Linked DNA regions of Homo sapiens. The protein of the gene in region 1 purifies or fractionates together with the protein of each later gene. This does not show direct contact. Each region holds a gene or a part of one and is shown in the gene's direction. Other genes may lie near its edges. The genes, in order: DRD5 and GNA12.

The links.
Region 2: the proteins of DRD5 (region 1) and GNA12 purify together in Homo sapiens (affinity purification with western blotting, with the first as the bait; one study listed by BioGRID). This does not show direct contact.

The regions. Positions count from the first base shown.
Region 1 is NC_000004.12:9,780,344-9,784,629, forward strand, and holds DRD5 (D(1B) dopamine receptor), read left to right. Parts: upstream 1-1,290; 5' UTR 1,291-1,686; coding exon 1,687-3,120; 3' UTR 3,121-3,666; downstream 3,667-4,286. UniProt on the Homo sapiens protein: Dopamine receptor whose activity is mediated by G proteins which activate adenylyl cyclase.
Region 2 is NC_000007.14:2,792,056-2,795,864, reverse strand, and holds part of GNA12 (guanine nucleotide-binding protein subunit alpha-12), read left to right. Parts: intron 1-721; coding exon 722-937; intron 938-3,809. UniProt on the Homo sapiens protein: Guanine nucleotide-binding proteins (G proteins) are involved as modulators or transducers in various transmembrane signaling systems. Activates effector molecule RhoA by binding and activating RhoGEFs (ARHGEF12/LARG).

The DNA.
Region 1 (4,286 bases):
GAGGAGAGACCAGAGGTGAGGATGGCCCTTCAGTTTCAGGTTTAGGCACCTGGACAGATGGTCTTGCCCTCTCCAGCGGCAAAAAGCACTGAGGGGGAAGGAGGTTGGGGGAAGGGACTGTGTAGGCTGAGCAGCTTAAGTCTGAGAAGGTGGGCCACTTGCAGATGTTGGTCCAGGGTACAGGTGCGTTTGGTGGAGGGGGAGACTAGGAAGGGAGGAGAAAGTCCAGTCTGTTTCTAGACCTCACCATGCTGCAGGTGTCTGGGCCAGCAGGTCGCAGCCGGAGCTATGCAGCTGGCTGCTGTCACATCCCTTTCTCTCCCAGCTGCCTTCAGCTGAGCTTAACGCCAGTAGAGGCCGAAACACTTCACAAATGCAACTTGTCAGCTGGGAGGTGCACTCAGAGCTCAGGAACACTGTTTTCCCTCTTTATTGTTTTCCATCATTCTTTTTTTTCAGTTTGGGTTTTGGGCCCCGTCAGTTCCTTTTCTGTTAAACACTGAGCTATTTATCCATCCCTCTCAAGGTTGAAAAAGAGAAAGGCTGTAAAAGTGCCCTGCAAAGAAGAGGCCTCCAACTCTATGGGGGTGGGGGGCTCTCTTCCTCCTCTTGTCTTCTGAGTTCATTCCGAATTATTCCCCAAAGGAAAAATCGTTCAAGGACTGGGGGCGGTGGTGGGGAAAAGGACAATCTCCCAAGAGGTCAGCTGAAGCCCCAGCCTCAGGGTGTTGAGAGAGGGGCTGGGGGAAGCGGGAGCCTGTTCCTAGGAGACACTGTCTACTGGACACCTCATCCTAGACGGCTTCCATGAGTTCTGACACTGTCCCAGGAGTAGGAATCATTATCCCACGCTGTGGAGAAGGAAACCAAGGCCGGGTAAAGTTATGTAGGGCCCTTAAAGTCGCAGAGCCAGGAATAAAGTCCGGATTGGGACTCGGGTCTGTGGGTAATCCAAGGCTGCCCCGCTTACCCTTCAAATGCTCTTTCCCCCTCCGGAAGCCCTCGCGTCCTCATCCTTACCCCACCTCTTGTTCCCCAAGCGTGGCCAGGGCTAAGGCTCCAGGGATGCGCCAAGCACCCTTCGGTTTTCCCGGGGAGAATTTTCCCCGGCCCGGGGACTAGGGTCTGGCGCTGGGGCGCCCCTCGGACCTGCGGGATCGCCCCTACACTCTGGCGCGCTGAGGGCGGTGAGCGAGGGCGCCAAGGCACAGGTGGGGCGGGAGTCGAGCGCGGAGGCTCGGGGGGCGGGACGCGGGGCCTGGGAGCGGCCAGGGACCGCGGCAGCGCCTCAGTGCCAGCCTGGCGCCCGCGACTGCCTGCCCCAGCCCCTCAGTGGCGGCTTGCTCTCTTCTCTCGCTCCGAACCAGACACAGCCGCTGCCGCTGCCGTCCGGCGCGCTACAGACTCCCGAGAACAGCCCTGGCTGTCAGCGAGCACCAGCCGCTTCCTGTCCCCATCGCGGAGACTGGAGGGGCGCACCACGGCCATGGAGCCAGAGGCGCTTCAGGAGGCAAGAGAAGTCCCCGCGCGCTCCGCAGCCCGGCGCAGCTCATGGTGAGCGCCCTCTGGGGCTCGAGGGTCCCTTGGCTGAGGGGGCGCATCCTCGGGGTGCCCGATGGGGCTGCCTGGGGGTCGCAGGGCTGAAGTTGGGACCGCGCACAGACCGCCCCTGCAGTCCAGCCCGAAATGCTGCCGCCAGGCAGCAACGGCACCGCGTACCCGGGGCAGTTCGCTCTATACCAGCAGCTGGCGCAGGGGAACGCCGTGGGGGGCTCGGCGGGGGCACCGCCACTGGGGCCCTCACAGGTGGTCACCGCCTGCCTGCTGACCCTACTCATCATCTGGACCCTGCTGGGCAACGTGCTGGTGTGCGCAGCCATCGTGCGGAGCCGCCACCTGCGCGCCAACATGACCAACGTCTTCATCGTGTCTCTGGCCGTGTCAGACCTTTTCGTGGCGCTGCTGGTCATGCCCTGGAAGGCAGTCGCCGAGGTGGCCGGTTACTGGCCCTTTGGAGCGTTCTGCGACGTCTGGGTGGCCTTCGACATCATGTGCTCCACTGCCTCCATCCTGAACCTGTGCGTCATCAGCGTGGACCGCTACTGGGCCATCTCCAGGCCCTTCCGCTACAAGCGCAAGATGACTCAGCGCATGGCCTTGGTCATGGTCGGCCTGGCATGGACCTTGTCCATCCTCATCTCCTTCATTCCGGTCCAGCTCAACTGGCACAGGGACCAGGCGGCCTCTTGGGGCGGGCTGGACCTGCCAAACAACCTGGCCAACTGGACGCCCTGGGAGGAGGACTTTTGGGAGCCCGACGTGAATGCAGAGAACTGTGACTCCAGCCTGAATCGAACCTACGCCATCTCTTCCTCGCTCATCAGCTTCTACATCCCCGTTGCCATCATGATCGTGACCTACACGCGCATCTACCGCATCGCCCAGGTGCAGATCCGCAGGATTTCCTCCCTGGAGAGGGCCGCAGAGCACGCGCAGAGCTGCCGGAGCAGCGCAGCCTGCGCGCCCGACACCAGCCTGCGCGCTTCCATCAAGAAGGAGACCAAGGTTCTCAAGACCCTGTCGGTGATCATGGGGGTCTTCGTGTGTTGCTGGCTGCCCTTCTTCATCCTTAACTGCATGGTCCCTTTCTGCAGTGGACACCCCGAAGGCCCTCCGGCCGGCTTCCCCTGCGTCAGTGAGACCACCTTCGACGTCTTCGTCTGGTTCGGCTGGGCTAACTCCTCACTCAACCCCGTCATCTATGCCTTCAACGCCGACTTTCAGAAGGTGTTTGCCCAGCTGCTGGGGTGCAGCCACTTCTGCTCCCGCACGCCGGTGGAGACGGTGAACATCAGCAATGAGCTCATCTCCTACAACCAAGACATCGTCTTCCACAAGGAAATCGCAGCTGCCTACATCCACATGATGCCCAACGCCGTTACCCCCGGCAACCGGGAGGTGGACAACGACGAGGAGGAGGGTCCTTTCGATCGCATGTTCCAGATCTATCAGACGTCCCCAGATGGTGACCCTGTTGCTGAGTCTGTCTGGGAGCTGGACTGCGAGGGGGAGATTTCTTTAGACAAAATAACACCTTTCACCCCGAATGGATTCCATTAAACTGCATTAAGAAACCCCCTCATGGATCTGCATAACCGCACAGACATTGACAAGCACGCACACACACGCAAATACATGCCTTTCCAGTGCTGCTCCCTTTATCATGTGTTTCTGTGTAGTAGCTCGTGTGCTTAGAAACCTCACCCCATTGATTGGTAGTTCGAAGAATTGGCAGAAGCAGTTGCAATAAACTCAGTCAAATGTACCCAGCCTACCAGAGATGGACCAACGATCCTATGAGAGAAGAGAGTATGGTGCTGGGTCCTTAAAAAAAAAAATGATACTTGGTCCTTAAAAAATATGCTCTCCCCTCCCTTTTTAAACAAATGGCTTGTTCAGTCACTTGTTTGTGTTTGAATTGATTTTTAAACAGCAGGTTGTGTGTGTGTGCAGTGATGTGGTGGGAGCACAGCTTTCCTGGGTCTGGATTCCCGTGGCTTTGTGCTTATGTCATTTCTTCTCTCTGTGCTGGTGGGGGCCTCTTTACCATAGCTTAAGAAGTATCCCTGATTTATTCTGGTGTCTAATAAACACAGATTATTTGTATTATGGGGTGACTATCTTTGCTTTGCTACATTGGGTTTCAGGATTGCTTCTGAAGAAACGATGAGTGCATCCTTAAAATGCAAAGAAGATATTTGCTGGGTCTGGAAGTACATGCTTAATCTCTTTACAGTTTGGCCTTAAAGATACACCAGGGCAAAGGACCTTGAGGAGCTTCTGTTTTCTCAGGTTTCTTTTTATTACTTATACCCATGTTGGGTCTGTGCTGAAACCTGGCTTCAATGGCATGGCATTAGATCTTCTCAAGACCAGATGTTTTTTTTCTCATATGGAATCTTTTTTGAAGTAACATAAGACAACTCTCCTTATTCCTAGACAGATGCGATCAGTTCATTGAAAAGATCATGTAGAATAATATCTTGAATCTTTCTCCATCTGACAACTGTAGCATGTTTTAGAATGACATGGCTTTTGAGAAATCGTGTTTTCTGAAGAGCTTTGAAATGTGTGAATCAAGATGCTTTAAAAAAGAAACTCTATTTTTAAATAGGCATTTTCCTTAGTGGACAATAGCAAATAGGGAAATGCTTTTTAAGTAAAATGTAGAAGCCAGAGATGAAATGTGAATGAACTTGAAATTGGAAAATCTGTAGGTCGAGGTG
Region 2 (3,809 bases), on another chromosome or scaffold:
CAGGGCAAAAAGAGTGAAACTCCATCTAAGAAAAAAAAAAAAAAAAAAGTTGTTTTTTTACTGATACACTTCATTTTCCAGTGAAATTTTCTGAAATTGTTGCCACCTCCTCCCCGCCCAGTTGTCTTTTTTCCAGTAGCTTTGCAAATGAATGATAGCAGAAAGCAGACTTCTTTCTGTGGTGCTTATGTACATCTGTTTTCTTTTTTTTCTTTTTTCTTTTCTTTTTTTTTTTTTGAAACAGGGTCTTGCTCTGTTGCCCAGCCTAGAATATAGTGCAGCAATCATAGATAACCGTAGCCTTGACCTCCTGGGCTCAAGCAATCCTCCCCGCTCAGCTGAGACTACAGGTGTGCCACCACCAAGCCCAGCTGTTTTTAATTTGATTTAATTTTTTGTAGAAGCAGGGTCTTGCTCTGTTGCCCAGGCCGGTCTCAGACTCCTGTGTTCCAGCAGTCCTCCCTCTTTGGCCTCCCAAAGGGGAGGCTCACAGTGTGAGCCACTGCTCTCGGCCATGTGCGTCTGTCTTGGTGAGGTTATACTGCTGAGAGTTAAGACTTTCCACATCACAACAAACAAACCAAGAGACAGACTCAGGCTGCACAGCTCAGAGCTTGTGAGTTTTCTGCGTTATGACAATGGATGCCCATTTTGAGCTTCTCTAGCGTGGTTTAGTCTTTGGAATGCAATTAAATCCTCTCTTCTTTCTTTTATTTTCTAGGGCTCAAGGGTTCTTGTTGATGCACGAGATAAGCTTGGCATTCCTTGGCAGTATTCTGAAAATGAGAAGCATGGGATGTTCCTGATGGCCTTCGAGAACAAGGCGGGGCTGCCTGTGGAGCCGGCCACCTTCCAGCTGTACGTCCCGGCCCTGAGCGCACTCTGGAGGGATTCTGGCATCAGGGAGGCTTTCAGCCGGAGAAGCGAGTTTCAGCTGGTGAGTGAGTAGGCCTTCTTGCTGGGCACCTGATAGTGTGTTTTTTACATGACTATTTTGGACCGTTAGTTGAATTTCCTTAAAAACTGTGTAACAGTCCAAGCAAGCTCTAAATCACCGTAAGTTGTAATGATCAACAACCAAAACACGGGATGGAGGCAGATGCTATATAAAAGGCTCAAGAGGGGAAGGAGCAAGAGCCACTCAGGTAAGATCAATAGCTTTCTTCTGGGAATACGGAGGGTTCTTAGAATCATCAGCATTGGCACAACCCGAGAAATTTAGTTTTTTTTAGAGATCTTGTTCATAGTAGGAAATAACACCCCCCACAACAGCTTCCCACTTTGGACCTGTGGGTATGGGCAACTCACGAACGCCTTCAGATCAGCGCCTCGGAAGCAAATCCAACTCCTCCCAGTTGTTCCCTTCAGATTTGTTCCTTTCGTTTTAAGGTCTAAAAACTTCACAAAGCCCAGTTATTTAGATTCATTTGGGGTCTGAATCTATAACCAGAAAATCTGGGGGGTTTTGCCTGTTTGCTTTTTGTTTTTTTCTACCTTTCAAAATTAACCGTATATAAAGTAAAATGTACAATTTTTCTGATAACCAGCATAAATGTGCACAGCTGATATTAATACACACCCAGGGTATCCAGAAATGCCTCTCACTCTCACAGCCGTTTGCCCCCTTAGCACCCAGAGTCAAGTTGAAGTCATGAATCCTTTGCCGTTCTTATGATTTTGCCATAATACCCATTTATTATTTGTAAACACGACAGTCTTGAGTTTTACTGATTCTTAACCTTCATATAAGTCATTTCTTAGTGTATAGTATATATGCTTCTGTGACTTGCCTTTTTCACTCCACATGTTGGAATTTCATCAGGCGAGGCACATAGCAGCGGTTCTTCCCTTTTCACTGCTGTCTGATGCTCCACTGTGGAAAGATACTAGGATCCATTCCTTCTTTCATTGAGGTACTTTTGAACTGTTTTTCATATTTTGCTATTGGAAACGTCTTTTTTTTTCCTTTTTTTTTTTTTTTTTGAGATGGAGTCTCGCGCTGTTGCCCAGCCTGGAGTGCAGTGGCGCCATCTCAGCTCACTGCAACCTCCACCTCTGGATTCAAGTGATTCTCCCACCTCAGCCTCCCGAGTAGCAGAGACTGTAGGCACCCACCACCACACCAGCTAATTTTTATATTTTTTAGTGGAGATGGAGTTTTACCATGTTGGCCAGGCTGGTCTCGAACTCCTGGCCTCAGGTGATCCACCCGCCTCGGCCTCCCAAAGTGCTGGGATTTCAGGTGTGAGCCACCATGCCCCACCCTATTCATATCTTTTACCCATCCTTTTCCTGCAGAGTAATTTTTATTTTTCTCAATCATCTGAGAGGTGCTATATAGTCTGCTAATAGTCCCCTCAGTTCAATTTCCTTATATTCTTCTCCCAAGTCCCCCTAATGTTAACATCTTAACCACTATACAACTATTAAAACTAAGAAGTTGACATCGGTATGAAAGCATCAATTAACTGTAGACCTTGTCTGAATGTGACCCACCTTTCCTCTTGCGCTCCTGTCCGCTGCTTCCTCTCGCGTCCTGTCCGCTGCTTCCTCTCGCGTCCTGTCCGCTGCTTCCTCTCGCGCTCCTGTCTGCTGGATCCTGGCCTGGAATCCCCCATTGTGTTTAGTCATTGTGTCCCCTTGGTCTCTTGCAGTCCATGATAGCTCCTTGATCTTTCCTTGCCTTTCATGACCTTGACATGTCCAGAGCACTGGCCAGGTATTGTGTAGAATCTTCCTGTTTGGGTTTGTCTGGTATTTTCTCGTCATCAGGATGAGGGGATGCATTTTTTTGGCACAGAAACCGCAGGCGTGCCGTTGAGCCCTGCTCAGATCATCTGATCAGGAAGTGCGTGATATTGTCCAGTGGCTGGTGATGCAAGCCTGGGTTGCTTGGTTGAGGCACTGTTGGCCACCTTTCTCCACTGGGAAGTCAGTATTTTCTCTGTGTTGTTAACACATATCTTAGGGAGATACATTGAGACCCTGCAAATAGCCTGTTTCTCCTCAGGCTTTTGCCTGTAAATGTTAATGTCCTCCAGGGCATCTTAAGGATGACGTTTTTACTAGCCCCTTTCCATCTGCACATTCCTTCTCAAGTTAACTTTAACAGTTAAGGTAAAAGAATCAAAAGAGAGTGGAAGATGTGGTTGCGGTAGAAAGGAAATTTTAATCTCCTAAAGAGCAGGGCTGGAAGAAACAATTGGGAAATACATGTCAGTATCTCAATGTGAAATTGAGGTTTACACCTTTTCCCCATACACTCACAGAGTCTGGGAAAGAAGATTCTCATTCATTTAGAACTTGGATGGAAATTGAGGATTTTCCAAAGAAGGAAGCAGAAGTGTCTGGGGCTGATCGTACTGAGTGAGGCTTCTGTCTGGGATTCGGCATGGTGCAGCAGCTTTGACAGGCTTCTGTCTTTGCCCTGTTCCGTCAGTGCAGGGTGTCAGTGCTGGAAGGGACCTCCCAATTTAGGAAGTCAAGCCCTTGTATTGTCACGACATGGAAGTAAGCCCGTACCAGTTATGCTGTGCCTGAGGCCACATCATCTTGGTAATCACTGTGAGAAATTTGGGCCTCAAAGCCCAGTCTGCTTGTTTCTCCCCTTCTTCACTCATTCATTCATTCATTCTGCATTCATGGATCACCTACTGTGTGAGACCCGGTGCTACATGCTGGGGATATAGCAGTGAAGAAGACCAAACATGAGCCTGTCTCCAGCGAGTGAGCTTTTAATCTAGACGTGCACTTGGCGGGTGATTAGGGTAAGGTGGCCACAGGTGGGTCAGTAGTCGTCCCTTTGGTTC